Linked DNA regions of Homo sapiens: regions 1, 2 and 4 are each linked to region 3. Evidence: fine-mapped expression QTL. A gene starts in region 3. Each other region holds a variant in brackets. All regions are shown on one strand. Distances are from middle to middle. Region 1 holds the start of NFATC4 (nuclear factor of activated T cells 4). Region 2 has its middle 9.5 kb from the start of CMA1. Region 3 holds the start of GMPR2 (guanosine monophosphate reductase 2). Region 4 holds the start of PSME1 (proteasome activator subunit 1).

Region 1 (8,081 bases), 140 kb after region 3:
TCACTATAAACTACCTACATCCTGTTCTTGTCTCAGGCTCTACTTACTGGAGGAGCCAAGCCTGGGACAGATTCCTGTGTAAAATGTGATGGAATGAATTAGCAAACTTGACAAGGACCCAGGAGGCCTGGGTTCCAGATCAACTCTATTGCTAACCTGATTTGTAAAAGTCACTTTATCTACTGAAAAGGTGGGCATTTTCATCATCATTTTCAGATGGTACTATGGGAGAAGATCTTCCAACCATTTGTTAAGTGAGGAAAAAAAAAAGCAAGAAAAATGCTTGTCACGCGCATAAAAAGAGCATGTGTGTGTGCGTACATGTTAATAAAGGCATACAAAATGGTGGACCATCAAGGTTTACTACATATTTTTGTATAGCTTGAATTGTTTACAAGAAGAATGCATATTAATTAGCTTTATTTAGACCTCTGGGGAAAAGAGAAGACTGCATCTTGTGTAATTAAAAAAAGAAATAAATAACATCCACCTCCAAGGAAGTTGAATGATGCTTGTTAAAGTGCAGAGCAGAAGCCACCAACCAAGGTAAGAAAGCCGGGTTGTGCTCCGGTATGTGCGCTAGGAGGCAGCGGAGCTGAGACCGAGGCCAGGCGGCTAGAGAAACCGCGAACCAAGGACGGGGGGGCTGGGTCTTTCTGGTCGCCAGGGGGCAGAAGTGTAGGGCAACTTAAATCCGCAACTACCCGCTGTTGCCCAGGCTCCAACGCCAGGCCGAGCATTTCAGAAGTCATAAGTTCCATCTCTCTGCCGCAGCCGAGACAGATTGGAGGGTTTTCAGAGTCAAGGGGATGCCCCCCCGCCCCCCGCCTCAGAGAAGCTTGGCACTCTGAACAATCTCAACCACTCTCCCCTCTGCTCCTCCCTTCCCTACCCCCCAACACCCATGAAGGGGAAATTGAGTCATGGGAGGAGAGGCCAGAGTCATCAGGGGAATGAGGGCCGACGCCAGCCCTCAGGGCCTTCCAGATGCTAGGAGGAGGAGGGTTCTCCAGGAAAACAAACAGGGGTGAGAGGGGAAGGCGGTTGGCTGGGCAGGAGCTGAGCCAGACACATGGAGAAACGCTGCCCAGGATCAAAGGAAATATGACATTTGAAAAGAATGTGTGCGTCTGCATGTGCTGTGCCTGCGGGGAGTGGGGCCGGGGAGGGGCAGAGTCTGGGGGAACAGGGGCTGGGCCTCGGGGTCTCTATCCCTGCTTTTCTCGCCTCCGCTTCCCACCTCCCTTGCCCTCTTAGGTACAGGCTGGTTGATGGGTCGAGGTGTTCCTCGTCCTCCCTCCCCGTGGGTTTCTCCTTCCTTTATTTCCGAGATGAAGCTGGAAGGGAAATGTAACCTGAGGAGACCAACCAAAGGAAAAAAAAGAAAAAAAAAAGAAAAAAAAAAAAAAGAAAGAAGAAAATCAAACCAGGCCGCTTCCCCGCTCGGCCTCGGAACATTCTTCTCTCCCCGCCGGCCTGGGCTCTTCTCCCCGCCCCTCCTGTGTTGCGGCCCTGGGCTCGGAGCCGGGGCAGCTCCGCACGTCACTGGGGTCCCCGGGGACTGGGGGGGTGGTCCCCTGGGCGGGCCCGAGGGAGGACCGAGGGGAGGGAGGGAAGCCGCCTCGGCCGCTGCGGAGCTCCGGCCCGTCGGGCCAGCCCTCCCTTCTTTCCCCAGTCCCGTAGAGCCTGTTTCTCATTAGAGTAACGGGCGCGGTCCCCGCCCGGCTTCTGAGTGTTTGTAAACGTCTGACCTGGGGCCGTCGCTTAACCGTTTAGTTGCTGGGATGGGGCGGCGTTGGGGGTGCGGCCCTGAACCGGAGGGATTTAGAGACTGGAGACGCGGCCTCTAAGAGAGGTTGAAACTGTGTGTGTGTGGGAGAAAATGATAACCACCCTCCCATCTCTCCTACCCGCCAGCCTCGCCAGTATCTCCCACCGAGTCACGAATCTCCCATCTAACTCCCTCTCACACAACCCAGGCCTCTCCAAGCCTGACTTTCCCGGAAACTCCAGTCCAGGTCTTCCTTCCTCCTCCAGCCCAGGTGACAGGTGTCCAGCCTGTTGGGGGCGGGGGGGCCAAGGAGGGGGAAGAGGAGGGGAACCCACAGGGTCCGGAGGTTTCAGGCCCCTAGTAAACCTGGCAAGGATTTTTAGAAGAGCCGGAGTGGGATGCTATCGGGTCAGAGATTCATTCCAGACTACAGTTCTAGGGAGGAGGCTGCCAACTTCCCGTGGAGGCTAATTCACGGCCCCTCTGGGTGGCTGGGACAAGGGCAGCGGCAAAGCCTGGCCTGGATCTACGCCCATCAAGGGCTGTGGGCCTAGGGACAGTTCTCAAAGCCTCTTTGGCTCGGACTGCTCCCAGAGGCATCCAGGCTGGCTAAGCGTTCTTCATCTTTGGGGGTCCTGGAGGAATGGCTGATGGAGGCGCTGATTCGGCAGCGCAAAGACTTCCAGAAGGCCCGGGCAGAGTAGCCCCAGGCAAGGGAGGCGGAAGAATAGCCTTTTCCTCTTCCGAGCAACTCGGTGCCACTCTGCCCCCAGGACCCTCCTGGCCTCAGGCTTGGAGGGAAAGGGGAGGAGAAGTGGTTCTGCCTTGCTAGGTGCTATCTACACAGTCTTCAGAATTTAAAAAAGGGTCTTCCGTGGGCTCTCTACCCTGGGGGCCCAGGATGTGGCCCCTTTAAGGCTCTCGGACCCAGAACCTTGAACTGAGACTAGGGGAGGTGGGGGCTGGGCTCTCTGCGGGAAATGATTGTCACAACGGCGGACCAATAGGCAACATTAGTATCACTCTTGAAGGACCGTTTTCCAATTCAGTTTTTTTTTTTTTGAGGGGGAGGGACTGAAGAGAGGACAGAGGGAGGGAGGGTGGGGGAGGACGAGGGGCGCGTGGTTTTCCCATCTCATCCCTGGAGGAGGGGCTGGAGCATCCCCGGCAGCCAATCAGGGACAGGCTGGGGGGGGGACCGCTTTGAAGAAGTTTGGGGGAAAAAAGTTTGGAAAAGTTTCTATAATAACGAGGGGGCTTCTGGAGGGAGGCGGCAGCGACGGAGGAGGGGGCTTCTCAGAGAAAGGGAGGGAGGGAGCCACCCGGGTGAAGATACAGCAGCCTCCTGAACTCCCCCCTCCCACCCAGGCCGGGACCTGGGGGCTCCTGCCGGATCCATGGGGGCGGCCAGCTGCGAGGATGAGGAGCTGGAATTTAAGCTGGTGTTCGGGGAGGAAAAGGAGGCCCCCCCGCTGGGCGCGGGGGGATTGGGGGAAGGTTAGTGCTGGGCTGGGAAGGGGTCTTGGGGTCAGTGAGAGGAGGGCCGGGGATCCTGAGTCTGGGGAATTTAAGGCAGCGAGCCTAGGGTGGGGGGTGAGGGAGTCAGAGGTCGAAGGGAGTCGGGGGGACTCGTTGGCCTGCGGAAGTGAGGCTGGGGGCCCGGGCACCACTTTCTCCTTTTTAGGTCGTGACTGGGGTGGGGGTGGGGGTGCTGTTGGCTGTGCGCCGCCTCCCGGCTGGGCCGCCTGTCACTGAACTGGGGGGCGGGCGGGAACTACGGCCCCAACAGCACCAGGCGCCGCCAGGGGAAGGGGAGGTTTGGCGCTGGAGCTGGCCCCTGGCGGACCGAGCTCTGGCCCGGCCGACTGGACGCCCGGGGCTGGGGGCGCTGTCAGGCCTCGCTGGGGCGCCCCTCCCCCTCCCCCGTCTGGCCGCAATGAGAGGCAGATGGCGGGGACCGAGCCGGGGGCGGCGGCCGCCGCTCGCACGAATCCGCGCTGCCCGCTGCCCCCCTTCCCCCGGCTGGGCCCAGCACGCATCACCCCCTCGGCTGCACCTCCGCCCCTAGATGGCGAGGAGAGAGGGAGGAGCCACCTCCCCTCGTCACCACAGCCCTGACGCCCCCCTCCCCTCTGGCCACGGTTGCGATGGCAACTGGGGCTCCTGCCAGCGCCGTTTGGGGGTTTGGGAACCGCTGCTAATTGGGTTCATGTGTGAGTCGCCCCCAGTCCAGCCCAGTGCCTCAAGAAACACGCCTCCAGGCCCAGCCCCAGCTCCAGCCCCTCTGGACCCACCTCTCTCACCTTAAGACCCACTGGATCGGGTACCCTCGGTCCTAGGATCCAG[G/A]GGCCAGTGGGCAAAGGCCTGGCATGCCTGCTTCAATCTCCTCCATCTTCCCAGGTCCAACTCTGCTTTTGTCTTGTGGCTCAGAAGGTCTCTTTGCTGAGGGGCAGGGAGCATAGAAGGACTTGCGGCCTGGCCACTCAAGGAACATAGCCATCTCACCTGCTTCTCTCTTTCCCCCTCTCCCTCTGCTCCTCTTCCCATTTTGACAGAACTGGACTCAGAGGATGCCCCGCCATGCTGCCGTCTGGCCTTGGGAGAGCCCCCTCCCTATGGCGCTGCACCTATCGGTATTCCCCGACCTCCACCCCCTCGGCCTGGCATGCATTCGCCACCGCCGCGACCAGCCCCCTCACCTGGCACCTGGGAGAGCCAGCCCGCCAGGTCGGTGAGGCTGGGAGGACCAGGAGGGGGTGCTGGGGGTGCTGGGGGTGGCCGTGTTCTCGAGTGTCCCAGCATCCGCATCACCTCCATCTCTCCCACGCCGGAGCCGCCAGCAGCGCTGGAGGACAACCCTGATGCCTGGGGGGACGGCTCTCCTAGAGATTACCCCCCACCAGAAGGCTTTGGGGGCTACAGAGAAGCAGGGGGCCAGGGTGGGGGGGCCTTCTTCAGCCCAAGCCCTGGCAGCAGCAGCCTGTCCTCGTGGAGCTTCTTCTCCGATGCCTCTGACGAGGCAGCCCTGTATGCAGCCTGCGACGAGGTGGAGTCTGAGCTAAATGAGGCGGCCTCCCGCTTTGGCCTGGGCTCCCCGCTGCCCTCGCCCCGGGCCTCCCCTCGGCCATGGACCCCCGAAGATCCCTGGAGCCTGTATGGTCCAAGCCCCGGAGGCCGAGGGCCAGAGGATAGCTGGCTACTCCTCAGTGCTCCTGGGCCCACCCCAGCCTCCCCGCGGCCTGCCTCTCCATGTGGCAAGCGGCGCTATTCCAGCTCGGGAACCCCATCTTCAGCCTCCCCAGCTCTGTCCCGCCGTGGCAGCCTGGGGGAAGAGGGGTCTGAGCCACCTCCACCACCCCCATTGCCTCTGGCCCGGGACCCGGGCTCCCCTGGTCCCTTTGACTATGTGGGGGCCCCACCAGCTGAGAGCATCCCTCAGAAGACACGGCGGACTTCCAGCGAGCAGGCAGTGGCTCTGCCTCGGTCTGAGGAGCCTGCCTCATGCAATGGGAAGCTGCCCTTGGGAGCAGAGGAGTCTGTGGCTCCTCCAGGAGGTTCCCGGAAGGAGGTGGCTGGCATGGACTACCTGGCAGTGCCCTCCCCACTCGCTTGGTCCAAGGCCCGGATTGGGGGACACAGCCCTATCTTCAGGTGAGGGTTGCGCCTGGCACTACCGCTCTCTCTAGCCATTCCAGTAGGGGAGCAGGAGGGTCAAGGGATGGATTTGAAGACACTAGTTTCATGCCCTCTGAATTTCAAAAGAGTATCTGCAACCAGCTCAGCAGCTGCCAACTACCTGGTTTTAAAGAGAACTAGAAAAAAAAGTGCACCTCTGGATGATTTACAAGAGGGCAACAGTTCCCTGTGGGACAATTAGAAAAAGCCCCTCCACCCTCCCACCCCTAGCTATTGTAGGAGGATCAACTAGGTTAAGGAGGTGTTCCTGTAGCCTATAGAGTGCTCCCAAGCCCCCGCTCTGCACTGGCATGTGGCTGAGTGTGGAACTTGGGCTGGATTTCAGCCTTCCACTCTGGCCCTTTCAATAGGTGCCAGACCTAAGCAGATTTCCACTCTGTTGCAGGAAATTCCCCTTCTGCATTCCTTAATTTCTAGAGCCTGACCTACTAGCTTAAAAGTATAGCTGCTAACTTGAATAAAATAGCATATATTTGCAAGTCAAATAATTCATATTAAAACTTGCAGTTCTATTCCTTCCACCCTCAGAGAATCTTGCCCATTTCAATAATCTTAAATCTTGAGATGTTAGACTGAGCTGGCTCTGTCCAGAAAAGTTTCTAGGGGAAAGAAACGTTAACACTGGTACCCCTGGGTTTCCCATAGGGCAAAGTTTCTCAACCTCAGCACTGTTAATTCAGCACTACTATTTTGAGCAGGATAATTCTTTGTTATGTGGGGGTGTACTGGACATTGTAGGATGGTTTAGCAGCTTCCCTGGCCTCTACCCGTTAGATGCTAGTAGCACCCACTCCCCTAGTTGGGAAAACCAAAAATGTCTTCAGACATTGCCAAATATCTGGGCAATTACTTGGGGGGCAATTACCAGTTGAGATCCACTGTCCTAGGGTATCAGGGAGCACAATACAGGATAAGTTGTCCCATCTGAAACCCTTAGCTCCCTGGAACTCCACCTATCAAGCCCCAACTAGTGGAAAGGGAGCTGGCTTGAGAGCAGAATGTGCTCAGTCCTAGGTCTGTCAGTAGCTGCTGGCTTCAGTTTCTTTCTCTCTCTCTCTTTTTTTTTTCTTTGAGACAGTGTCTTGCTCTGTCACCAAGACTGGAGTGCAGTGGTGTGATCTCACTCAGCCTCAACCTCCTGGGCTCAAGCAATCCTCCTGCCTCAGCAGGAGTAGCTGGGACTACAGGAGCACCAACTCGCCCAGCTGCTTTTTGTATTTTTTGTAGAGACGGGGTTTCACCATGTTGCCCAGGCTGGTCTCAAACTCCTGGGCTCAAGCCATCCTCACACCATCCCCTACCCCTGCCTTGGCCTCCCAAAGTGCTGGGATTATAGGTGTGAGCCAACGCACCTCAATTTTTTAATTTGTAAAACAAAGGGTTCATATCTGAGGCCTTTTCTGGTCTGAAGCGGCACTTCTTTTTTCTTTCCATCCAGGTCTAGGGATTGAGATGGGCTTGAGAATCCTCTGTATCCAAGTGAAGCCTTTCCACCCCAACCCCTGCGCTCAGAGCTGGGAAGAAGGGAGTTTTAGGCTTGTTGTCATCTTTCACACCTCAAGGGGCTCTGTCCCCTACTTCCCCTTGCTTCTGGACTTTTGGATTTCTTCATTTCTTTGTCCTTTTTTTAGTTTAAAAAAAATTCTTTTTTCCCTTCTTTTCACAAGTGTTAATGTACTTCTTTATTTCTTCTGTGCTTTCCTTTCTCTCAGACCCATACCCCCTCCTCCCTCACAGATCCAGTACGGGCCTGACTGGGGTCTGAGGCTGCACATGATCAATGCTCTTCTCTCCCACCCAGGACCTCTGCCCTACCCCCACTGGACTGGCCTCTGCCCAGCCAATATGAGCAGCTGGAGCTGAGGATCGAGGTACAGCCTAGAGCCCACCACCGGGCCCACTATGAGACAGAAGGCAGCCGTGGAGCTGTCAAAGCTGCCCCTGGCGGTCACCCCGTAGTCAAGGTAAAGGACAGACAGCAGGCCTGATATCCTCTCTCCTCTCCCAGATAGGTTCCAGCTATGCAGACACATGGCACTGCCCTTTCCCACACTCCCTCTCAGCTCTGACCCTGCAGGCAGCCTGGGGGAGGGGCTGGAGTTGGGGGAGGAGGGGTGCAAGGACCCGGATATACTTTCTACTCCTGTCCTTCCACCCCCACTCAGCTCATCCCATGGGACACCAGCCTCATGTCTACTCTGGAAAATGGTGGCCCGCCAGATATGGGGGAGGGTTTAGGCTGAGGACAAAAGTCACTGGGAGTTAAGTTTTCTCTGTATTGAGTTGGGCCAGTCTCTTTGGAGGCTCTTCTGCCTTTGCCCAGCCCACTTTGGGCTTTATTCCAAGAAAAACACTGTGAACTCCAGGCCATGTTTTCTCCACAACGGGTGCCCAGTTCCCCAAGGGATTCCCTTGCAGGATATCCTTTATCTTTCACCATTCCCATCCCATGGTAGACTGAAAATCTAGGGATGAATAAAGGATGAGACGGTGGGGATTTCAATGAGGTGGCCGCTCTCTCCCTCTGCCAGCTCCTAGGCTACAGTGAGAAGCCACTGACCCTACAGATGTTCATCGGCACTGCAGATGAAAGGAACCTGCGGCCTCATGCCTT
Region 2 (8,100 bases), 290 kb after region 3:
TACAGAAAAAAATGGCTTCTCTCTGGTTATGGTCCATGTTAATTTTTTTAAAATTGAGAATCATAACATACATACATAAGAGTGAAAAAAATTTTTTCTAACCAGCTTGATTTGTCATTTCCTTTAGACATTTCATCATGTCCTTATCCTGCCCTCTTCAATATGAGAGAAGGGCCATGGATAAGAATTGGGGGCATTTTGAGCAAAGCAGGTTAAGGGAAACTTCCAAAGCCAGTTTCTGATTCTTTCTCCACCCTACTCTTCTTGTCCCTGGGACACTGTCATCAACTGTGGAAAGTATATGACTCTTCTAGGTATAGCTCTCCCTTTGGAACATATGCAAAGATATCCTGCAGCATTATTTTAGGCTCTTCTCTGACCCAGGTTAATGATTTTGGAATAGGGGCTGAGGACTTACAGGACAGGAAGTTACACCCTAGACTCACCAGATGTGGCTTCAGGAGGCAAGAGGAAGACCAGCAAAATGATCAGGGCCTGCATTTTCCCTGCGACATTGCCCATACTGACCATGGCTAGTTCTGTCACCCCTTCACTGGGCCCCGCTTTTATAGCCCTAGAAGTAGAAGAAAGGGGATGGCTTGAAGCCACAGAAACCACCTGATCTCATTTCTGTCTTTCATGCTGGCATGGTTATCTTCCTCATCAGAAATTCTCATGACTCTACTCTCTGCTCTGGGAGTGTAGAAGTTGTGGTGAGTTCTCAAGAGTCCTAGGAAGAGGGATGCACACTTGTCACTCAGAAAAGCTCTCTAGAAGTAGGTAGTAGCATGCATGGAGGGGGGAGTTTTAGGTGCTGTAGCACCCATTCTAAGCAGGGATTAGGGAACTTTTCTGTCAATCACCAGGTAGGAAGTACTTTCAACTTTGAGAGCCAAATGGTCTCTGTGGCAACTATTCAACTCTGCTGTGTAACACAAAAGCAACCATAGACAATTTGTAAACCCTGGATGTGAACATGTTGCAGTAAAACTTCATTTACAAAGGGAAGTGGGAGGCTGATTTGGCCTGCAGACCATAGTTTGCCAGACCCTGATCTAGGTATCAGCCCTTCTTTCAATTCTAATAATCAGAAGAAAGGAATGTGGTGGTGAGAGGAGGAAGGAAAAAGGGAGAATTTATTTTTTCAAAATTTTTCTTTCTTTCTATATTTTTATTGAAACATAATTCACATACCATAAAATTACCCTTTGAAAATATACAATTCAGTGCCTTTAGCAAACTTACAAGGTTGTGCAACCATCAACACTATTTAATCTAGGACATTTTCATCACCCCATAAAGAAACCTGTATTCATGAGTAGTCACTTCCATTGTCCACCTCCCCACAACCCCTGGCAACAAATAATCTACTTTGTCTCTATGTATTTTGCCTATTCTGGACATAAATGGAATTATATAATATTTGGCTTATTATGTCTGGATTCTTTCACCAAAAATAAAGGGTGAATTTACAATGTGTTTGGCACTGCTAGGACTTTACATGTATCTTCTCATTTAATCTTTATTAACAGTCTTTTGGGGTTAGTATTATTATACACAATTATGAAGCACTCAGTGGAAGTTCAGAATGTCACATAGCAGCACAGCCAAAATTTAATTTGTCTGGTTCTGAAACTCATACTTTTTCTATTCCACTAATTTGAGTAATAAGGGTTGTGGGAGGAAGAGTTAGTCCAATGAATGGAGAAAAAAATGGAATGTATAAAGGAGAATATTTGTGTTCTCTGGAGGGGTTGGGGTAACCCACTTGTGCATTGAGAGTCACACCTGGCTTGAGAATAAATTGATACCTGCAGCTGTCATTATTTGAAATTATCCTGGACTCTCATTACTTTATGTGCCACTGAGGAAGAATAAAATTGTTCTAAATTAAACAATAATGTGTCATTAATTATCAGGTTCATTTCTGTTGTGAAGAGGTTAAAATGAGAAATATTGTGCATCTTTTAACCTATGACACATGGTAGAGTTCAGGTGTGTGCTTTATCTCATTCACCCTCAAATCAACCCTGAGAAATATTATTGTGTTTATTTTACAGATGAAGAAACTGAGTCTCAGATAATTTGAATCACTCGAAAAAACTTTGTAAGCTATAAACATAACTAGGTATCGAACTTATATCCAATTGCATGATCTTTCCTTACATCATCCTGCTGTCCTGGACTGTAGAAGCAGAGCAAAACCAACAACAAACCATTTCCCTCAATTTTATAAGGCACAATCCATATTATTATGATTTTCAACATTATTTTTATTTCATTTTAGATTCAGTGGGTACATGTGCAGGTTTGTTACATGGATATATTGTGTAATGGTGAGATTTGGGCTTCTAGTGAAATATTGTACTCAATACGTAATTTTTCAATCCCTCTGCTTTGGAGTTCCTGGTATCTATTATTTTCATCTCCATGTCCATGTGTACCCATTGTTTAGCTCCCACTTATAAAAGAGAACATGCAGAATTTGATTTTCTGTTTCTGAGTTACTTCACTCAGGATAATGGCTTCCAGGCCCATCCATGTTGCTGCAATGGACATGATTTCATTCTTTTTTTATGGCTGCATAGTATTCCATGGTGTGTATATGTGTGTGTGTGTGTGTGTGTGTGTGTGTGTGTGTGTGTGTGTGATTAGATATTTTCTTTATCCAGTCCTCCATTGATGGACACTTAGGTTGATTCTATGACTTTGCTATTGGGAATAGTGTTATGATAACCATACAAGTGCAGGAATCTTTGAGATATAACGATATGTTTTCCTTTGGGTAGATACCTAGTAGTGAGATTGCTGGGTTGAATGCTAGTTCTATTTTTTGTTCTTTCAGAATCTCCATACTGTTTTTCATAAGAAATTTACACTCCCACCAACAGTGAATAAGCATTCCCTTTTCTCTGCATCCTTGCCATTATTTGTTATTTATTTTTTGACTTTTTATTAATAGCCTTTCTGACTAGTGTGAGATGGTGACTCATTTTGGTTTGATTTGCATTTCTTTCATGATTAGTAATGAGCATTTTTTCATATGCTTGTTGGCTGTTTGTCTTCTTTTCAGAAATGTCCGTGAATGTCCTTCGCTCTTTTTTTTTTTTTTTGAGGCAAGTCTCACTCTTTCGCCCAGGCTGGAGTGCAGTGGCGCTATCTTGGCTCACTGCAGCCTCTGCCTCCCAGGTTCAAGCGATTCTCCTGCCTCGGCCTCCCAAGTGGCTGGGATTACAGGCACCCACCATCACTCCCAGCTATTTTTTGTATTTTTTGTAGAAACAGGGTTTCACCATGTTGACCAGGCTGTCTCAAACTCCTGACCTCAAGTGATCCATCCACCTCAGCCTCCTAAAGTACTGGGATTACAGGCGTGAGCCACCATGCATGGTTTTTGCCCACTTTTTAAATGAGGTTATTTGTTTTTCTTTCTTGTTGATTTGTTTGGGTTTCTTATATATTAGTCCTTTATTGAATGCATAGTTTGCAAGTATTTTCTCTCATTCTATATGTTGTCTGTACTGTAGGTCTGTCTCATTCTGTAGGTTCTCTCATTCTGTAGGTTGATTGTTTTGTT[G/A]TGCTGAAGCTCTTTAGTTTAATTAAGTCCCATTTTTCTAATTTTGTTTTTGTTGCATTTGCTTTTGCGGTCTTATTCATAAATTCTTCATCTAGGCCAATGTCCAAAAGAGTTTTTTCTAGATTTTCTTCTAGGATTTTTATAGTCTCAGGCCTCACAGGTGAGGCCTCAAGTAGCTGGGACTATAGGTGCGCACCACCACGCCTGGCTAATTTTTTGAACTTTTAGTAGAGACTGGGATTTGCCATGTTGGTCAGGCTGGTCTTGAACTCCTGACCTCAAGTGATCTGCCCACCTCGGCTTCCCAAAGTGGTGGGATTACAGGAGTGAGCCACTGCACCCGGCCCTTATTTTGCTTTTTTGCTTCCATTGCAGATTCATTGCAGATCCGAGCACAGTTGGGTTTATGTTGTTTCCTGCTCTGTCTTACCTCCTTTCACCAGTCTCCCCGTTTATTCAGTGTTCATTCTAAGCAGTCCTTAAATCATCCCTTTCCCATGGGTTTGGGTAGAGACCCTTAAATCTGGGATAGTTCTTTCGTTAAACCTTGTGATGCTGCCTGTCCCTCTATCAGCTCTCAGCATTGGCAAGGCCAGCAATGGAAAGTTCCCTGCATCTTAGAATCAAATCTATCAACGGTGATCTCATATCTGGTGGGATTTAGAAGAAGTCTGTTATGTCACAAACTGTCCTTTTCACATGCTTACACGAAGCTCATTCGATTTGTGGTTGTTGCCAGGAATGGAGGCAGCCAACTCCTGAGGCAGTGTGGCAGGAGTCAGAGGGCCAAGCCTCAAAGATTCTTTTATGCGCCCCCCCTTATGTGTTTTCAGTTAGAGTGAGTACTCCCTTAATTGAGGGACTACTCAGGACTTCTGAGTAGTCCTGGATTTAGCCCTCCAGGATCTGAAATCAATGTTGTCCCAGATAATGATTCTGCCTTTCATTTGCTCTTTTTTCCTGTATTTCCTTATCTCTTAACACATACATCCAGGAAAAACTTTCTCCTTCCCCTAGAAGTTATGCACAACTGACACAGTTTTGAACATTTGGCTAGTTTATTGATGCTGCCATAGGGAAGTGCTCTAAGTATCAAGATCTCTTGTGAAAGACTGATTTTTCAGTCCCTGTAAGGGGAATGTCGTAAAGAGAAAGGAGCGGTGAATTTCTCAGGACAAATGTCCCTGATTAACAGCAAAGATTACATTGTTGAGACTTAGGAAAGGGTACATCTTTTTCCTACAAAAGCCTTATTCACACCATGCATTTGGGAACGAGGTGAAGTAAGTATTAAATACGTAGTTAAGAGCTCTGGAATCAGACTGCATTGGAATCCTGGTAGCACCCTTTATCAGCTTTGTGACTTTGGGTGCATTTCTTTATCTCTCTTAGCTCCCCACTTCCACATCTGTAAAATGGGCTTAATGATAGTGAGGATTAGATATTTTTTGGGGAAAGCATCAGGCATAGTAAGTACTCAAAGTTAGTTATTAATATTGACATTATTAGCCCCCAAGATCACTAACCTCTTCCAAGAGTTTGTGAACCAGAATTGTCTTCTTTTAAGTTATTCCAGGACTCTAAAAGGCCAAATAAATAAAAAGAGGACCTCTCAGCACTTGGAACAGTCTTCCACCTGCCTCAATCCTTATCAGAGGGATTCTGGGAGGCACCACTCTGTTCCCAGCCCCTACTGTGAGAAGCAGTGGTTCTGTGCCCTGGGGTTTCCCAGCCTTGTGAAAATGATAACATCCTTTTTGTGTTACGCTGGGGCAGTTAGTTGCATCCTCATTTTGTGCTGTGGGACCTCACGTGCCACTATTTCTGTGTATTCTTGCAGTTGCTCAGCTTCCCCTAATTTTTATAACCTTTTCTGTATGGCCTGGGTTCCTTGAGAACCACCTGATAGATGACTGGCACTATCTCACCCAGCCTCAACCTTCTATTCTTTTTCTCCTGCTGTCTTATGAGTTCTTTCAATGACAATATTTGTGTCAGCCTGGCTATCAAAATTCTCTATTCCTTCCAAGTTCTGGGTTTCTAATAAAATACCACTCACATTGATTTTGTATCCTGAGACTGCTGAAGTTGCTTACCAGCTTAAGGAGATTTTGGGCTGAGACAATGGGGTTTTCTGGATATATAATCATGTCATCTGCAAACAGGGACAATTTGACTTCCTCTTTTCCTAATTGAATACCCTTTATTTCCTTCTCCTGCCTAATTGCCCTGGCCAGAACTTCCAACACTATGTTGAATAGGAATGGTGAGAGAGGGCATCCCTGTCTTGTGCCAGTTTTCAAAGGGAATGCTTCCAGTTTTTGCCCATTCAGTATGATGTTGGCTGTGGGTTTGTCATAGATAGCTCTTATTATTTTGAGATACATCTCATCAATACCTAATTTATTGAGAGTTTTTAGCATGAAGCGTTGTTGAATTTTTTCAAAGGCCTTTTCTGCATCTATTGAGATAATCATGTGGTTTTTGTCTTTGGTTCTGTTTATATGCTGGATTACATTTATTGATTTGCGTATATTGAACCAGCCTTGCATCCCAGGGATGAAGCCCACTTGATCATGGTGGATGAGCTTTTTGATGTGCTGCTGGATTCGGTTTGCCAGTATTTTATTGAGGATTTTTGCATCAATGTTCATCAAGGATATTGATCTAAAATTCTCTTTTTTGGTTGTGTCTCTGCCTGGCTTTGGTATCAGGATGATGCTGGCCTCATAAAATGAATTAGGGAGGATTCCCTCTTTTTCTATTGATTGGAATGGTTTCAGAAGGAATGGTACCAGCTTCTCCTTGTACCTCTGGTAGAATTTGGCTGTGAATCCATCTGGTCCTAGACTCTTTTTGGTTTGTAAGCTATTGATTATTGCCACAATTTCAGAGCCTGTTATTGATCTATTCAGAGATTCAACTTCTTCCTGGTTTAGTCTTGGGAGGGTGTATGAGTCCAGGAATTTATCCGTTTCTTCTAGATTTTCTAGTTTATTTGCGTAGAGGTGTTTGTAGTATTCTCTGATGGTAGTTTGTATTTCTGTGGGATCAGTGGTGATATCCCCTTTATCATTTTTTATTGCATCTATTTGATTCTTCTCTCTTTTCTTCTTTATTAGTCTTGCTAGCAGTCTATCAATTTTGTTGATCCTTTCAAAAAACCAGCTCCTGGATTCATTAATTTTTTGAAGGGTTTTTTGTGTCTCTATTTCCTTCAGTTCTGCTCTGATCTTAGTTATTTCTTGCCTTCTGCTAGCTTTTGAATGTGTTTGCTCTTGCTTTTCTAGTTCTTTTAATTGTGATGTTAGGGTGTCAATTTTGGATCTTTCCTGCTTTCTCTTGTGGGCTTTTAGTGCTATAAATTTCCCTCTACACACTGCTTTGAATGTGTCCCAGAGATTCTGGTATGTTGTGTCTTTGTTCTCGTTGGTTTCAAAGAACATCTTTATTTCTGCCTGCATTGCGTTATGTACCCAGTAGTCATTCAGGAGCAGGTTGTTCAGTTTCCATGTAGTTGAGCGGTTTTGAGTGAGTTTCTTAATCCTGAGTTCTAGTTTGATTGCACTGTGGTCTGAGAGACAGTTTGTTATAATTTCTGTTCTTTTACATTTGCTGAGGAGAGCTTTACTTCCAACTATGTGGTCAATTTTGGAATAGGTGTGGTGTGGTGCTGAGAAAATGTATATTCTGTTGATTTGGGGTGGAGAGTTCTGTAGATGTCTATTAGGTCCGCTTGGTGCAGAGCTGAGTTCAATTCCTGGATATCCTTGTTAACTTTCTGTCTCGTTGATCTGTCTAATGTTGACAGTGGGGTGTTAAAGTTTCCCTTATTATTGTGTGGGAGTCTTAGTCTCTTTGTAGGTCACTCAGGACTTGCTTTATGAATCTGGGTGCTCCTGTATTGGGTCCATATATATTTAGGATAGTTAACTCTTCTTGTTGAATTGATCCCTTTACCATTATGTAATAAAAAAAAATACCACTCACTCACTCACTCACTTTATCAGTGAGAAAGTAGATGGATGAGCACTTCCTAGATACCAGACCCTGGTGAGACAAAGGAGATCACAGTCTGCAAGCTCATAACTACAGCACGAATAGCCACGTGCTTCAGTGGGAGGTGTATAATGTGCTGTGTGGTGGTAAGAGAAGCTCTCGTCTGTCCTGGAAAGGCAGTGACAGCTTCATTTGAGGTGAGATCTCAAGGATAGGTTAGATTTTATCATTGGACAAATTGAGACAGGGCTTTCTGTGCAGAAGTAGTGACCTATGCAAAGAGGGCAAGAGAAGGGATGGGTGTTTGCGGAACTACATAAAGTATCTAGCATAAAGTTGAGTGAAAGAGGGCAGGAATGGTGGAAGATGAGGCTGGAGAAGAGCTGGGTCAGGAAGGGCTTATGTGCCATGAAAGTGTAGAGTTTGTCCTATAGGTCAGTTTTTAAAAATTGTGGTTAAAAAAACACAAAATAATGGTAAAAAAACCCATAAAATTTACAATCTTGACAGTGTTTAAATGTACA
Region 3 (8,084 bases):
AGCTCACGGCTGTAATCCCAGCACTTTAGGAAGATGAGGTGGGAAGATCACTTGACCCCAGAAGTTTTAGACTAGCGTGGGCAACACGATGAGACCGCATCTCTACAAAAAAATAAAACAATTGGCTGGGTATGGTGGTAGCACACGCCTGTAGTCCCAGCTACTCAGGAGGCTCAGATGGGAGAATTGCTTGGGCCTGAGAGGTCGAGGCTGCAGTAAGCTGTGATGGCACCACTGCACCCTAAGCCTGGGCGACAGAGTGAGAACCTGTCTCAAAAAAAAAAAAAAAAAAAAAAAGGAACTGTAATAAAAAATGTCACTTATATGGTAATTAACAGCTCTTTTTTTTCTTTTTTAAATTAATATTTTCTTCAGATCAGATTAACAGCTATCTCATGTGTAACTACTTTCCTATGTATTTAATTAAGAAATGCAACAAACAAGAGGGGATGGGGCGAGAGGGGGAGATAGAGAGAGATGGGGCACAGAGGCCTGTTTGAAGGCAGAAGGGTGTTGCAGGAAAGAAGACTGGCAATTTTAGAGAAGTACCACATAAATATGGATTCAAAGAAACAGAAAAAATCTAGAATCTTGCTATTCAAAGTGTAGCTCTCAGACATTCAATATCACCTGGGAGTTTGTGAGAAATGCAGAAACCTGTGCCCCACCTTAGACCCACAGAATCATAATCAGCATTTTAGCAAGACCACAGGTGATAGGACACTGTATTTTCAAGTTTCCACACACAGCATTGATTTTTTTGTTCAAACAGTTATTTTATTTATTTATTTTTTGAGACAGTCTCACTCTGTTGCCCAGGCTGGAGTGCAATGGCACGATCTTGGCTCACTGCAACCTCTGCCTCCCAGGTTCAAGCAATTCTCCTGCCTCACCCTGTCAAGTGGCTGGGACTACAGGTGTGTGCCACCACACTCGGCTAATTTTTGTATTTTTAGTAGAGACGGGGTTTCACCATGTTGGCCAGGCTGGTCTTGAACTCCTGACCTCGTGATCCGCCCGCCTTGGCCTCCCAAAGTGCTGGGATTACAGGCGTGAGCCACCACGCCTGGCCTTTCAAACAGTACTTTTTAAACTGCAGGTCTCAACCCATCAGTGGGCAGGTCTCAACCCATCAGTGGGTTATGAAATCAACTTAGAATTGAAAGTCTGAGAGCATATCACAAATAGCAAAGTTTTTGTGCCTTATGGGTTGTGACATAAAATTTCTTAATGTGGAGTGAAATTTTCAAAAAGTGTACAAAACACTTAGCATTAGTAACTTAACTTCTTTGGACCTAGTGGACATGAGAACCCATATGCATTGAAAAGCCAACAGAAGTATTCAACAGGCCGGGCGCGGTGGCTCATGACTGTAATCTCAACACTTTAGGCGGAGGTGAGCGGATCACTAGGTCAAGAGATCGATACCATCCTGGCCAACCTGGTGAAACCCCGTTTCTACTAAAAATACAAAAATTAGCTGGGCGTGGTGGCACACCCTGTAGTCCCAGCTAGTCAGGAAGCTGAGGCAGGAGAATCGCTTGAACCCGGGAGGCGGAGGTTGCAGTGAGCCGACATTGCGCCACTGCACTCCAGCCTGGTGACAGAGGGAGACTCCGTCTCAAATAAAAATATTCAACAGTTAGTGTTTCTCAAGATTTTGACAGTGATCCATTCTAAAAATTAGTATGAACTAGTAACACCCCCTGTGTAATATACATATAAAATAAAATAAAAAATTTCAGGCCTGGCAACAGAGTGAGACTCTGTCTCAAAAAAAAAAAAAAAAAAAAAAAAAAAGGCCAGGCACGGGGGAGGGTGGCTCACACCTGTAATCCCAGCACTTTGGGAGGCAGAGGCGGGCGGATCACGAGGTCAGGAGATCGAGACCATCCTGGCTAACATGGTGAAACCCTGTCTCTACTAAAAATACAAAAAAATTAGCTGGGCGTGGTGGCAGGCGCCTGTAGTCCCAGCTACTCGGGAGGCTGAGGCAGGAGAATGGCATGAACCCGGGAGGCGAAGCTTGCAGTGAGCCGAGATGGCGCCACTGCACTCCAGCCTGGGCGACAGAGCGAGACTCTGTCTCAAAAAAAAAAAAAAAAAAAATCATAAAACAATATCCTTACCTAGCACTATATTATTTCCTATTTTCTCCCCCTCTCTCTTTCTTTTTTTTTTTTGCAGGGGGAGATGGAGTTTCACTCTTGTCGCCCAGGCTGGAGTGCAATGGCGCCATCTCAGCTCACTGCAATCTCCGCCTCCCAGGTTCAAGGGATTCTCCTGCCTTAGCCTCCGAGTAGCTGGGATTATAGGCGCCCACCACCACGCCCGGCTAGTTTTTGTATTGTTAGTAGAGGCGGGGTTTCACCATGTTGGCCAGGCTGGTCTTGAACTCCTCACCTTAGGTGATCCACCCACCTCGGCCTCCCAAAGTGCTGGGATTACAGGCGTGAGCCACTGGGCCCGGCCTTTTTTTTCAGGCAGGGTCTGGAGTGCAGTGGTGCCATCACTGCTCACCGCGGCTTCGACATCCCAGGATCAATCAATCCTCCCATCTCGGCCTCCCGAATAGCTGGGCCTACAGGCATGCGCCCAGACCCTTGGCTAATTTTTTGAATTTATTGTACAGGCAGGGTTTCGCCATGTTGCCCAGGATGGTCTCCAACTCCTGGGCTCAAGCGATCGGCCTGCCTCGGCCTTCCAAAGTGCTGGGATTACAGGCGTGAGCCACCGCGCCCAGCCTATTTTCTCTTTTTAATGGCGCCAGTGACCCATTCACCTATTAAATTGATGTTACGACTCTTATATAGGCCGCTACTCAACGTTAAAAAAAATCATCTTTAACATACTATTTTAATACTAGACCTCAAATCTTAGCTAAGAAGTAGTTTGGAAGGACTGGGGAAGAGAAGGTTAAGAATGACTATTATGTACGGTAAATATGCTAAGAAGCTGATGAAATAACGATAGATTTACTTAGCTACAAAAAGGCCAAACTAGCATTAGACTTCACTTGTCAGCAGTTTTGTTTTTTTGAGGGGGGCGTGGGGGGGGGGGTCTCTGTCTGTCTGAAGGCACAAAAGAGGAAACAGCAGATAGGACTAACGAGGGCTGGAAATTGGTGAAGAACCACCACGGGAGTTGAGAGATGCAGATGAAGGAAACCATGGCTAGTAGCAAGAACTAGGGCAGCGGTAACTAACCTGCCTCAGCCAAGGAAGTGAGGCTGGTCCAGGATGCCAGGCTCAGAAAGGCAGGTACTGACTGAACACACTCCCCGCTTTGGTTCCTGTAGGACGGGTGAGATACCACACCTTGGCAACCACCAGTAAAGGCTCATAGTCTAGCCCTTGGGAGGCCCCGATTTTAGGGCTGTGCTCGGAGGCGACCTACGTTAGGGACTGGGAGAAGCAGGTACCCTGGGAATGAAGAATGGAGAGCAGCGCTTACTCCAAGAATCTGAGAGACGGGGGAGTCAAGCCGCTGCTAGGCCTTCTCTATGACTGCGGGGGTTCGAATACAGTGAGACCCGACAAAAGCGACCCCATTCTGGGTGATAGCACAGTCCTGGCAAAAAAGCAGGCATGGCAAAATACCCCAGGGTCGTCAGGTGGGACCTGGGCCCCGCTCTCAAAGCCCTTCTGGGTCCCCCTATTTCCCACCACCCCTCGCGCGGAGCCCTGAGGCAGTCAGCGTCCTCCAGGCTAGGGAAAGGCGTGGTTTTCCTTCCCCACGTCTCCCGTAAGGCACTGCTGCCAGCCCAGTACTACTGCGTCTTGGCAAGGCTGGAGGTGCTCCCACCTTCACTTTAATTAGCATCTTCTTTCCAGTTTGGGGCTGCACACGGATAAATTGCTGCTCCTACCGCTCCGGTCGCCGCTGCCGCCCTCCAGCACTCTTGCCTGCAAGGGCCACTTCTACTTCCGGGTCACTGTCTGGCTCCACCCCCCCCCCCCCCCCCACTGGGTTCCGGAAAGGCTCAGGGTTGCTCCCGCGTTTCGGTTCAGTGACGTCGTAAATTGGAATGAGGCATCCAGTTTAGCAACAGCAGAGATGACGACTCTGCGATTCTGAGAGTCCCTGGCGAGCCCGGGCTAGCGAAAAGTGGGGGCAGAACGAACTACATCTCCCATCGTGCCAGGAGGCGGTCCCGCCCGTTTCCCCCTGGGAGTTGTAGTCTAACCCCCTCGGATCCAACAGCAACCTCAGTGCGTGAACTCTGTTATCCAGAAGGCCTCGCCCTGCCGCCGCCGAAGCTGGAATTCGTCGGCTAGTAGTTCTCGCCGGCAACTAGAGGAACCTGTTGGCGTGGCCCAGAAGGCTTAGCGGGATTGCACGAGGTTAGTTGCTAAGCAAGGTGGTCTTTGGTCAACTGCCGCCTGGACCAAGGCAACAGGAAGTGAGTACCTCTATTCCGGAAACTAGTTATGAACCCTCCCCGCCCCCCGTCGCCAACATTCCTTCGTTCCCCTAAATCAGCCTCTTGCCCCATTGCTCTTTGCAGGGGTAGAAGAAGGAAGTGTAGCGGGGTAAGGAATGCACCGTCAGGGTCTCTCACAACCCTTTCCCAGCTCTCCTCCCCAACAAACAGTACCTGGGATGGAGCCCTAGGGTAATCGCAGCCACGGGATGGGTCGAGGTGACAGGCTTCAGGGACCACACTTCGGCCTTTGCCCGACCTTCCACAACTTAAGCGAAGAGAGGCCACCAGCCGTAACAGGGCGTTAAAGCCCAGGGGAAGATTGGTCCTTATGACTTCCTGCCTTCCAGCCCTCAGATTCATCGCTACCCCGAGGCTAAGCGCCATGCCTCATATTGACAACGATGTGAAACTGGACTTCAAGGATGTCCTTTTGAGGCCCAAACGCAGTACCCTTAAGTCTCGAAGTGAGGTGAGCAAGCTTCTCTACTTGCTGTTTCTTGACCCCACGCTCCCGGTGGGCCACAACCAAGAAAGATGCCTGTCCTTGTCCTAATATGGTACGTTTTTTGGATTAATGAAATGGTCAATTTCCTGTTCATATCTGCAGGTGGATCTCACAAGATCCTTTTCATTTCGGAACTCAAAGCAGACATACTCTGGGGTTCCCATCATTGCTGCCAATATGGATACTGTGGGCACCTTTGAGATGGCCAAGGTTCTCTGTAAGGTAGGGCTTTCCTCATGCCCCATCCCTATTGGTGTCCAGTTAGCCCAGCTGACTGCAGAGGTGTTTGCATCCCCACCCCCATGCCCAGTCAGTTCTCTGGCAGTTAGCAGTCAGGATGCTCTGATTTACGGTTTTTTCCACTACTGAAGCCCTTTATCTGATAAGTTCAAAAGGCCATCTGAATTAGTGAGATTCAAAGCTAAGTTCTGCTCCGATATTTCTGATATATGAACAGAATTTTCCCTTTTGTCCTGTTTAGCAGTTTGTACACCTTGCCAACTTTTCCCACCACCCAGGTCACCCCCTCACAGTCACATGCATCCCTTCAGTTATGCGATTGTCCACATTAAGCATTCACTGTTTTAGTCCAGAAACTACAGTTTAAGCATTCAAAAATCCTAACTAGAAGATCCTAGGAGAAGCAGCTTATTAATTTTCTTTAATAAGAACAATTCATTAATAAAAGAATACTTCTGCCATTCTTTTTTTAATCTTCCTCTTCTTTAAGTCCTAGGTTCCTGGGAGTTTCTGGGATGTGCCCCAAATGGGATGTGTTTTTCTTATATACAAGTTGTTCACTTTGAAATGGAAGATGCTGCTCCTGTCAGTACTATTACCTGCCTCTATACTTGTTGCTGAGAAGGTAGAGAGTTATCTGGGCACTTTGAGAACATATGCACTCTGCTGGTTGATCCATGTAGCCCTGGTTGATGAATTCTGCTATTGTTTGTGGCTCCATTAGTCTTAAGGACTTCATATCCTTTTTCTATTTTTGATTGCTGTGTCTTTGTGGAATGTCTTGTCATTTCTTTAAGGTTGATAGTTATGCAGTTTTATTTTTACTTTATTTTTATTGCCATTCAGTAACTGCTTAGGAATCTTTCTGTTGCCCACTGTCCATCTGCCCTGACCAGTAGAGTTCAGAATTGGTGACTCTGACTGCAGAGTTAACAGGCGTGCTGTAATACATGAACCTTTTTGGGGACTGTCTTGATGCTTTATGTGGAGCCTGGCTTTCAGTATTGCTGACGAGAGGTAAAGAAATCAGGTTTTAGAGATAAGAGCCAAGTCTTACTGTAATAAAAAGGTTGGATGCAAGCAAACATCTTTTTCTAAGTTTGGTATGTAATCTGATGTGCTCATCATGCCACACTCTGCCAGTATATCTCCAACATCTGCTGACTTCCTATCCTATGGTGACTTTTCTTTGCTTATCAGTATGTTGATGATAGAGTTGTTGAGAAAGCAGAATTCAATACCAGCTTTAGCTAGATATTGTTGATCTCTGAGTACGTATGTAGAGCACTTGTTGCTAGCTAATACATGACTTCCTTGGGTTTCTTGTTAGTTGCAAGATTTGTGCTGTTTCAGCCAACTGCTGTCTCTTGTCTGTTTGCATGTAGACATGTAAGGCACAAACACCAGCATACACAATGGCCTTTGAATGCCTTCCTCAAAGTATTGGGATATTGTTTGCAATCTGTTGAGCTAGAGAATATGAGTTTGATGAGTCATTATGTCCTTGAACTTTATTAAAATGGACTGAATGAAACAGATTTTTTAGCTTGATCCATGTCCCCAACTAGGAAATTTGTCCTTTTTTCCACTAGAGATGGAGACAGGGTAGGGTAGCCCCTTATCAGCTCTTATCAACCTTAAGGCATTACCTTTGGTGAGCATCCAGATCTACTGAATTACTGCTGGTAAATGAACGAGAACATAACCAAAAATAGTTTAGTACTAGGTTACCTTAGGAGGAGGGGCTGAGTCAGTGCAGAGAAACACAGGCTCCATCCAGCTTCTTCATGGTTCTTTCATGTCTGCTGCCTGTCCCACTGCACCAGCAGCTTGTCACCTTTTAAGTCAGAAGCAGTGAATGTGCTGGCAGATGAAATCCAACCCAGATCACTCAGTACTTTGGTGGGAAATCTGACAAGTACTAGCTTATGGTAAAAAGCCCTACTAGTATTTGTAGAGAGAAGAAAGGTTGAACTCAAATCCCAGCTCAACCTGAGTTCTTTGACTTGTTTCCTCCCCAACTTCAATCATGTCCTCCCTCAGATAGAATAGGTCTGTTTCTAGAAAAGAGACCTTAATAAAGTTTTCTCCCTTTTGATGCTTCTTTGTCTTCTCCCCAGTTCTCTCTCTTCACTGCTGTCCATAAGCACTATAGCCTCGTTCAGTGGCAAGAGTTTGCTGGCCAGAATCCTGACTGTCTTGAGGTAACACTGGGCATACCCTGCTCCCTTCCTTATCCCAGTTTTCCAGCAATTATATTTTGGCTTTCTGGGGACCAGCACTCACCAATGACCCACTGGCTGCCCACCAGATCATCTCTGATATGCCAATGACTCTGTTTCTCCCACAGCATCTGGCTGCCAGCTCAGGCACAGGCTCTTCTGACTTTGAGCAGCTGGAACAGATCCTGGAAGCTATTCCCCAGGTGAAGTATATATGCCTGGATGTGGCAAATGGCTACTCTGAACACTTTGTTGAATTTGTAAAAGATGTACGGAAGCGCTTCCCCCAGCACACCATCATGGTATGTTTCTATTACAGTCGGTACCTTTTTATCTTTCCACTTTCCTGCCACTCCGTTTTGCTACATCAGTCCATTTCTCCTCTGCTGCATTATGATATTCCTAGTTCATTTAATCATGATACTGGATGATTATCCATAGTTCTAAGCTGAAAATGTCTATTTGGTCAGTGTAGTATCTCTGACCCTTGGTTCATAGTCTTTGTAAATCTGATGTCCCTGATGTCACTCACCAAACCATGATGGAACATCTGTGCACTGTACATACCTGTGGTACATAGACATCTGCCCACTGAAATGGACACATACTAGTCACATAAAAAGGGGTCACATGAATAATGATTTATCTTTTTACAACCTTAGAAGAGTGGCCTTCATTTTCTTCGCAGCAT
Region 4 (8,091 bases), 95 kb before region 3:
TGCGTTTACTCTGTGCCAGACACTGTTCTAAGTGTCTGTAAGTTCTTTATAAAAGTTAACGCATATGGCCGGGCGCGGTGGCTCACGCCTATAATCCTAGCACTTTGGGAGGCCGAGGTGGGCAGATCACTTGAGGTCAGGAGTTCAAAACCAGCCTGGCCAACATGGTGAAACTCCATCTCCACTAAAAATACAAAAAAAAAAAAAAAAAATTACTTGGGTGTGGTGGCGGGCGCCTGTAATCCCAGCTACTTGGGAGGCTGAGTCAGGAGAATCCCTTGAACCCGGGAGGCGGAGGTTGCAACGAGCTGAGGTTGCACCACTGCACTCCATCCTGGGCAACAAGAGTGAAATTCCATCTCAAAAAAAAAAAAGTTAACACATTTGGTCCTCACAACAATAAAAGTATGAGGTAGGTTGTACTGATCTTGATTGGCAAAAAAAAAAAAAAATTGAGATAGTAGTGTTCCCATTGTACAGTTGCAAACACTGAGACACAGAGGTTAAGTAACTTGTTCACAACTAATAAACAGAGGAGCCATGATTACAAAGCTAGATAATATGGGTATATCATCTATCCTCTAAACCAGGAATTAGCAAACTTTGGCCCTCCTGTGGCCAGTTTTGTATGACCTGCGAGCTAATAATTATATATGTATAATATATATATTTATATATTATATATATTATTATATATTTTATATATAATATTTGCATATATAATATATATATAATTTTTTTTTAAAGACAGAGACCTGGCAGTGATGGCAGTGTAATCCCAGCACTTTGGGAGGCTGAGGCAAGAGGATCACTTGAGCCCAGGAGTTTGAGACCAGCCTGGGCAAGATGGTGAGACCCTGTCTGTATAAAAATTTTTTTTAAAAGGTAAAACATTTTTTACATTTTTATTTTTATTTTATTTTTATTATTTTTTTGGAGACAGAGTCTCACTCTGTTGCCCAGGCTGGAGTGCAATTCTGGCTCACTGCAACCTCCACCTCTCAGGTTCAAGCGATCTCCTGTCTCAGCCTCCCGAGTAGCTGGGATTACAGGCCCCCACCACCACACCCGTCTAGTGTTTGTATTTTTAGTAGGCACAGGGTTTCACCATGTTGGCCAGGCTGGTCTCGAACTTCTGACCTCAAGTGATCTGCCTGCCTTGGCCTCCCAAAGTGCTGGGATTAGAGGCGTGAGTCACTGTGCCCGGCCATTTTTACATTTTTTAATGGTTGAAAAAGCAAAAGAATAAGAATATTTTATTACAGGAGAAAGTTACATGAAATTCAAATTCCAGTGTCTATAAAATGTTATCTCACCAAACTAATTCATTTACATATGGCAGCTTTCCTACTACAATGGCAGAGTTGAGTAGACAGACACTGTAAGGCCTATAAAGCCTAAAATATTTACTCTCTGGCCCTTTATAGAAAAAGTTGGCCAGACGCGGTGGCTCATGCCTGCAATCCCAGCACTTTGGGAGGCCGAGGCGGGCGGATCACGAGGTCAGGAGATCGAGTCCATCCTGGCTAACATGGTGAAACCCCGTCTCTACTAAAAATACAAAAAATTAGCCGGGCGTGGTGGGACGCGCCTGTAGTCCTAGCTACTCCGTAGGCTGAAGCAGGAGAATCGCTTGAACCCTGGAGGTGGAGGTTGCAGTGAGCCTAGATGGTGCCACTGCACTCCACCCTGGGCGACAGAGCGAGACTCCGTCCCCCAACACACACACACACACACACACACACACACACGTTTGCCAAAACCTGGTTTAAATCAGTAAATTATCCTGGAAAAAAAAAAAAAAACACCTGGCTAATATCAGAGAGATAAATGCTATGAATGTACTAAAACAGGATGATTTGTAATAGATTTGGAGGGAGGTTCCTTATAAAGGATGATGAAAATAGTTCTCTCTGAAGAGGTGACATCTAAACTGAGAACCGAATGACAACACCCAGGGTAAGGGTGTTTTAGGCAAAGGGATTATTAGCAAGGGCAAAGGCCCTGAGGCAGAAATGAACATGACACATCTGAGAAACAAATAGCCCAAATATTTGCAAGTGTAATGAATGAAGGGGCAAGCAGTAGAAAGTGGACTTAAAGGGGAGACAGGTGCGACAGCCTTTTGGATTTCATTCAAAGGTCAACAGGCAGCTGAGAAAGGGTTTTAAGCCAGAGAGAGGCATGAACCCGCTGCTCCGTGAGAGTGGGTTATAGAATGGCATCTGCAGCCGTGGTCCAGGAGAGAGTTGGTCCGGGCTTGGATAGGGATGCTGCCAGCTCTGGTGCCGGTGTTGCTACAGGTGCGCAGGATGTCGGCAGAGCCAGAGGCCCACGCTAGCAAGGCTAGGAAAGACAGGCCAGGTCTTATTCCATCTCTAGGGAAAGACGGAAGAGCCCTAAGTAAAGCTTATCTGTCCCAGGCGGAGCAGGGGAAGAAGAGAGCAGGTGGGGAGCCAGTTGGGAGGCGGGAGGTGGAGGTTGGGACGCGGAGAGACTGGCTTGGGCTTGGCGATGGGAGGACCCGGACCCGCCGTCCTCAGGCGGCGGGCGGCAGGTGGCGGGAGGCGGGAGGCGGGGACCGGGCCAGCGGAGGTGGGGAGCCTGGAAGCTGGCCCTCGCGAGGCGGCGCGGGGAGGGTGGGTGAAGAGCGCCTGTGCGCGCTAGGCGGAGCCTCACCCGCCGCCCTCCTCTGCGGCACCGCCCCTTCCATGGCAGGGCTGACCCCGCCTCCTCCATCCGACCCCGCCTCCTCCAGCCCTCCCCGCCCCACTACCCAGGAAGGCGGAGCTGGGTGCGAGCGCCCTACCGCTTTCGCTTTCCCTTCGCGGTGCCCACTCCACTCCTTGTGCGGCGCTAGGCCCCCCGTCCCGGTCATGGCCATGCTCAGGGTCCAGCCCGAGGCCCAAGCCAAGGTGAGCGCCGCGGGGTCTAGAAAGGGCCCACTGGGGAGGCGTGGCTGGAGCGGCCGGGGGCATCCCCGACCCGCCCCCCAGGCTCCCACGCGAGTCGGGGGCAGTCGGCCGAGCTGGCGCGCCCGGAGCACCTGCGCCCCGGGGAGGGCGGCGACTGCTGCCTGCGGGGAGAGGCGAGGCGGCCGTGGTTCTGCGGGGTGAGGTGAAGCGGAGAGCTGGCGTGGAGGGGAACTCCGCTGGCCTGGGGCCGGGGCCACACACAGACTGGGTGCGGGACTGCCCCAGCTACCTTCTGGCCTTTCCCTCAGGGAGGGTCCCGGGGCCCACCCCATCCCTGTCCTACTTGCAGAGGACTCTCAGCACCCCTCCTCACACCTGCCAGGCGACCCCAGAGATCTGTTCTCACGTGAACACTGGCCCTTCACCGCCAGGAATGTTCTCATCCCCCATATCCAGCCCCAGGGATACCCACTCCACTTTCCGTAGATCCAGGTCTGCAGAGATCCACCTTCTCCACCACCCCAACCCACCCTACAGGCATCCATCTCGCTTTCTTCAGGTCTGGCCTTAGAGGGATCCCCTCCACCCTTCCCCAGGTCAGGCCCTACATAACCCTAAGGGAACTGTCCTCAAATGAACTGGCCTTAAAGCCAAGTTTCTGAAGGGATGCGTGTGCCCCACAGGTGGATGTGTTTCGTGAAGACCTCTGTACCAAGGTAAGACATGCCCCATCAGCGTGGCCCCACCCCTGCCCAACTCCTACTGCTCAACCCTGCCTCACTACCTAGGACGGGCATTTGATGCTGACTCCCATCCTCCTCCACCCCCACCTCACACACAGACAGAGAACCTGCTCGGGAGCTATTTCCCCAAGAAGATTTCTGAGCTGGATGCATTTTTAAAGGTACCGCGGCTGGGCAGGGAGCTAGGGAGTAAAGGCC[A/G]AGAGAAGAGTCTGGAGGCTGTGAGAGTGAGGTGAGAGGAACTCCCTCACCTCCAGCCCTCCTCCCACCCTACACCAGGAGCCAGCTCTCAATGAAGCCAACTTGAGCAATCTGAAGGCCCCATTGGACATCCCAGTGCCTGATCCAGTCAAGGAGAAAGAGAAAGAGGAGCGGAAGAAACAGCAGGAGGCAAGCTGGGAAGACCTGGGAGAAGGGATCCAACTATGGGGGTAATCAACCTTAGTCCTGACTCTCATGAGCTCCTCTCTTTCTGCAGAAGGAAGACAAGGATGAAAAGAAGAAGGGGGAGGATGAAGACAAAGGTACTTGAAACCACAATGGTGGGAAGAGACTTGAGTCCCACTCACAGGAGCTCCTCCTAAGGATTTCTTTCCAGTCTCCCCTTCGCCCCTCACACAGGCTCAATCATGTGACTGACCCATTGCTCACTCTCTAGGTCCTCCCTGTGGCCCAGTGAACTGCAATGAAAAGATCGTGGTCCTTCTGCAGCGCTTGAAGCCTGAGATCAAGGATGTCATTGAGCAGCTCAACCTGGTAAGCCCTCCCCCTTAAACTCTCAGGCTTCAAGTCAAACCATTGTCCTCTTGGTCCCTGCCATTTAGGGCCTGGCACTTGCCAGGTTTTAGCAAGAGAGGGCACAGCAAGTGAAACCAGAAGTCCAGGCCCTGGGGCTCAGGATAGACCCGGCACGCCTCCACCCAGTGTGGGGAGGGAAGCAAGGGAGAATATGAAACTGGGAATTGGGTAGAGGGCTGATGTGGCATTATGCCATTCCCTCTTCCCAGGTCACCACCTGGTTGCAGCTGCAGATACCTCGGATTGAGGATGGTAACAATTTTGGAGTGGCTGTCCAGGTGAGAGCGCTGCCCCACTTCCCTGCTCTTTTCTAGTCCATGCTTCCTTCCACTTTCCCCCTTGCTTTTTTTCCCTAGGAGAAGGTGTTTGAGCTGATGACCAGCCTCCACACCAAGCTAGAAGGCTTCCACACTCAAATCTCTAAGTGAGTGACCACCCATGTGCACACTGTTTTTGTTTTGGGAGACCTCCTTCTTCTACTCCATACACACTTCTCCTTCCACAGGTATTTCTCTGAGCGTGGTGATGCAGTGACTAAAGCAGCCAAGCAGCCCCATGTGGTAGGTGAGGCCCAGGTCAGGGTGCATGGGGGAAGGACACATGTAAGGTCAGGCCTGACCCGAGCTTCCCACAGGGTGATTATCGGCAGCTGGTGCACGAGCTGGATGAGGCAGAGTACCGGGACATCCGGCTGATGGTCATGGAGATCCGCAATGCTTATGTGAGGAGGCAAGGGCAGGGCAGGGGTGGGCAGAGGCAGCTTTCCCAGGCCACCCACTCCCTGACCCTGCAGGCTAGGGGTTAAGGGTGACAAAGCTCAGCTTCTCCACAAGGCTAGAAATGGGGCACAGAGCCACTGGAGGCCTCTGACTGACCTCTACTCCCTGGCCCTGTAGGCTGTGTTATATGACATCATCCTGAAGAACTTCGAGAAGCTCAAGAAGCCCAGGGGAGAAACAAAGGGAATGATCTATTGAGAGCCCTCTCTCCCATTCTGTGATGAGTACAGCAGAGACCTTCCTGCTTTTTACTGGGGACTCCAGATTTTCCCCAAACTTGCTTCTGTTGAGATTTTTCCCTCACCTTGCCTCTCAGGCACAATAAATATAGTTATACCACTGCCCATCAGCCCAAGTCTCTTTATTGGAACCGGGCCCCGCTGGCCCTGGCTCAGGCATTTCCATTTCCATTAGTGGGACCAACCCACTGGGTGATTTGAGTGTTGAGCCGCTGGTTGGTCCAGTCCTGCCGGATGTCATCAAGGTGGCAGTCAAAGTCCACAAGGTGCTGGTGGGCCCGATCTTCCAGTAGAGCTCCCACCATCTGCCGTGACTCTTCCCAGTCCCTCCACATCACTCTGAAATAGTAACCCCCATGGAGGTCAAACAGCAAGTAGTGGGTCCAGACACAGACTTAACAGAGATTGGGTCTAGAGAAAGACCCTTGGGGCAGGGCCAAGGACAGAGGAGACCCAGGAGCCTTGGGCTTCTAAGAAGAGGTAGAGGGAGTGGGGTACTCACAAGTTCTTATCCTTAGGGACCCAGCGGAGACCTTGGTTCTCCAGGACGATGACCGGGGGCACACGAGGCTGAGGCACCAGTTTCTGATTATCCAACTGAGTGGACAAAGATGGGCAAGTGAGAGTTTCAAGGGTCCCCCCACCCTACTTGCTTTTCACCTCCCCACCCAGAAACCCAAGCCTCACCATAATAAGTACTGCATCAGGGAAGAATTCTGCAATTCGCCCAGCAATTTTCAAGGCCAGGGGCCCAGGGCTGTGTAGAGGGAAGATCAGAGGAGTGAGGAGCCAACTGTGGGCAAAACCCATCCATTTGAGCTGGGCCTCCCAGGTCTCATAGGTGTGGGCGCAGCTGTGGCCTTTCCCTGTAGGTGGCCTGCGGGGATCGGGCCTGCTGGATGCTTGATGCACGACTGCTTGATGCTTGAGTGCTGTGGGAGACAGGTGCTCAGATATTGCTGGTGAGAGTGGAAACCAAAGGTGGTCTTTTTGGAAGGTAATTTGGCATAACCATCCAAATTGAAACTGTATACATACTATACATATGCTGACCCAGAAATTCTACTTATAAAGAATTTATGGTAATCATAGGACAGTGTCTGTAATAAAACACTGGAAACAACCTCAATGTTTAAAGTATTAAATAAATTAGAGTACATTCATATTCAGACTATATAGCTGTTACGGTAGATCTTGGTGTGGAAATGGGATGATGTCAAGTATTTATTAAGTGAGGGAGAAACGCAAATTACAAAACAGTACCTCTAATTGCTCCATGTATATGATTAATATATATATATATATATATATGTCTTTTCCTATATGTATATATATAAGGAAACTGCCTTATTTTTGAAGTTGCTGGTTGGGATTTCTCTGTTCTTTCAGCCCCTGGGGGACACCTCAGTTAAAGCAAGATCAGTCTGTTGGCCGAGAGTGGTGGCTCACGCCTGTAATCCCAGCACTTTGGGAGTCCGAGGCGCGTGGATCACCTGAGGTCAAGTTCTAGACCAGCCTGGCCAACATGGCGAAACCCCATCTCTACTAAAAATAAAAAATAATAATAAATTAAAAAAATAAAAAAAATTAGCCGGGCATGGTGGCGCTCATCTGTGATCCCAGCTACTCGGGAGGCTGAGGCAGGAGAATCGCTTGAATCTAGGAGGTGGAAGTTCCAGTGAGCCGAGATTGCGCCACTGCACTCCAGCCTGGGAGACAGAGGGAGACTCCGTCTCAAAAAAAAAAAAAAAATCAGTCTGTTGATACACAGTTGTCCTCCCCGCCCCAACGGCACTCCAGGGCAGGGCTCTGTCCTATTCATCTTTATATTCCCTCACTCCAGTACCCAGCATAGTGCCTGGTGTAAAGCCCCTGCTCCTAAGCGTTTGATGAAGGAAAGATAAAAGGAACGACCTTGGTTCATCTTGTGCGCCCCCGCCCCGCCCACCGCCCCACGCATCCTCGCCCTCTATTCCTCCAATCCCCAACCCGCCATAATCCTTTCCTTCTTCCTCTGGCTACGCCACTCACCTCTGATCGTTCACAGCTGCATTGGCATGGTAGTAACCAGCCACCACCAGACCGGCCTGTGCTCCCCACACATCCACCTGTCGTAGGAAAGGGGCCATCAGTAATTAAATTGTGCCGCTGGCTTTGTGGATGCGCACTGCTGCCAAGGGACCGGGGATGAACTTGGGCTGGGGTGTTGGGTGGGTTCGCGGTGGGGGATGGGCATCCAACGGAGGCACCTGGTTGAGGGCGACCTCCAACATGACGGACAGGGCCAGGTGGCTGTGGAAGAGGGGCACACAGTCGGTGAGGCACAGGCATTCTCCAGACCGCGGCGCTGGCGCCAAAAACAGCCCGTTGACTGCGGCGTGTGGGTACCGGGCAGCATGCAGGCACATCTTCACGTAGGCCAGGGCCGAGATCTCCACCTCCCCCATGGCGAGCGAGGCCTGGACGGGAAGCAGCAAGCCGGATTAGTACCGGATTAGGCGAGCCGGTGCCTAGCTCGCGTCCGTGAAGCTCCCTCCAGCGCTTCGGCACGCTCTTTGACCCTTCCCCGTGCCCTCTCACTTCGGTTCGGCGACAACGCTAACTCGACTCGCAGGTAGCC

The links.
Region 1: its variant is fine-mapped to the expression of GMPR2 in whole blood (INTERVAL, PIP above 0.99).
Region 2: its variant is fine-mapped to the expression of GMPR2 in whole blood (TOPMed, PIP 0.95).
Region 4: its variant is fine-mapped to the expression of GMPR2 in whole blood (INTERVAL, PIP above 0.99).

What each region holds. Positions count from the first base shown.
Region 1 is chr14:24,365,173-24,373,253 of GRCh38, forward strand. NFATC4 (nuclear factor of activated T cells 4) reads left to right here and starts at 3,012. Exons shown (of 10, transcript NM_004554.5): 1 at 3,012-3,268; 2 at 4,327-5,422; 3 at 7,269-7,431; 4 at 7,999-8,081. The coding sequence starts at 3,169. LOC124903291 (a long non-coding RNA gene) reads right to left here and starts at 4,213. Exons shown (of 2, transcript XR_007064085.1): 1 at 4,075-4,213; 2 at 344-1,355. RefSeq lists silencers at 1,443-1,752, 3,471-3,850 and an enhancer at 4,813-5,656. The variant G/A (reference allele first, on the strand shown) is at 4,118.
Region 2 is chr14:24,513,697-24,521,796 of GRCh38, forward strand. No RefSeq gene overlaps it. Among named protein-coding and RNA genes, the nearest start is that of CMA1, 9.5 kb to the left of the region's middle. The variant G/A (reference allele first, on the strand shown) is at 3,578.
Region 3 is chr14:24,228,446-24,236,529 of GRCh38, forward strand. It overlaps GMPR2 (guanosine monophosphate reductase 2), which reads left to right and starts at 4,484. Exons shown (of 10, transcript NM_001002002.3): 1 at 4,484-4,532; 2 at 4,774-4,895; 3 at 5,034-5,153; 4 at 7,292-7,375; 5 at 7,522-7,695. The coding sequence starts at 4,809. NEDD8-MDP1 (NEDD8-MDP1 readthrough) reads right to left here and starts at 3,922. Exons shown (of 7, transcript NM_001199823.3): 1 at 3,805-3,922. The coding sequence starts at 3,822. It overlaps NEDD8 (NEDD8 ubiquitin like modifier), which reads right to left and starts at 3,922. Exons shown (of 4, transcript NM_006156.3): 1 at 3,805-3,922. The coding sequence starts at 3,822. RefSeq lists enhancers at 3,786-4,651, 3,818-4,112.
Region 4 is chr14:24,133,387-24,141,477 of GRCh38, forward strand. It overlaps PSME1 (proteasome activator subunit 1), which reads left to right and starts at 2,808. Exons shown (of 11, transcript NM_006263.4): 1 at 2,808-2,915; 2 at 3,599-3,631; 3 at 3,757-3,819; 4 at 3,935-4,045; 5 at 4,134-4,179; 6 at 4,314-4,411; 7 at 4,663-4,731; 8 at 4,810-4,877; 9 at 4,959-5,013; 10 at 5,088-5,174; 11 at 5,350-5,576. The coding sequence starts at 2,877. The coding sequence ends at 5,430. EMC9 (ER membrane protein complex subunit 9) reads right to left here. Exons shown (of 6, transcript NM_016049.4): 1 at 8,052-8,091; 2 at 7,721-7,930; 3 at 7,503-7,579; 4 at 6,159-6,228; 5 at 5,974-6,068; 6 at 5,579-5,810. The coding sequence starts at 7,918. The coding sequence ends at 5,624. RefSeq lists silencers at 2,382-2,801, 2,852-3,141, 8,039-8,091. The variant A/G (reference allele first, on the strand shown) is at 3,857.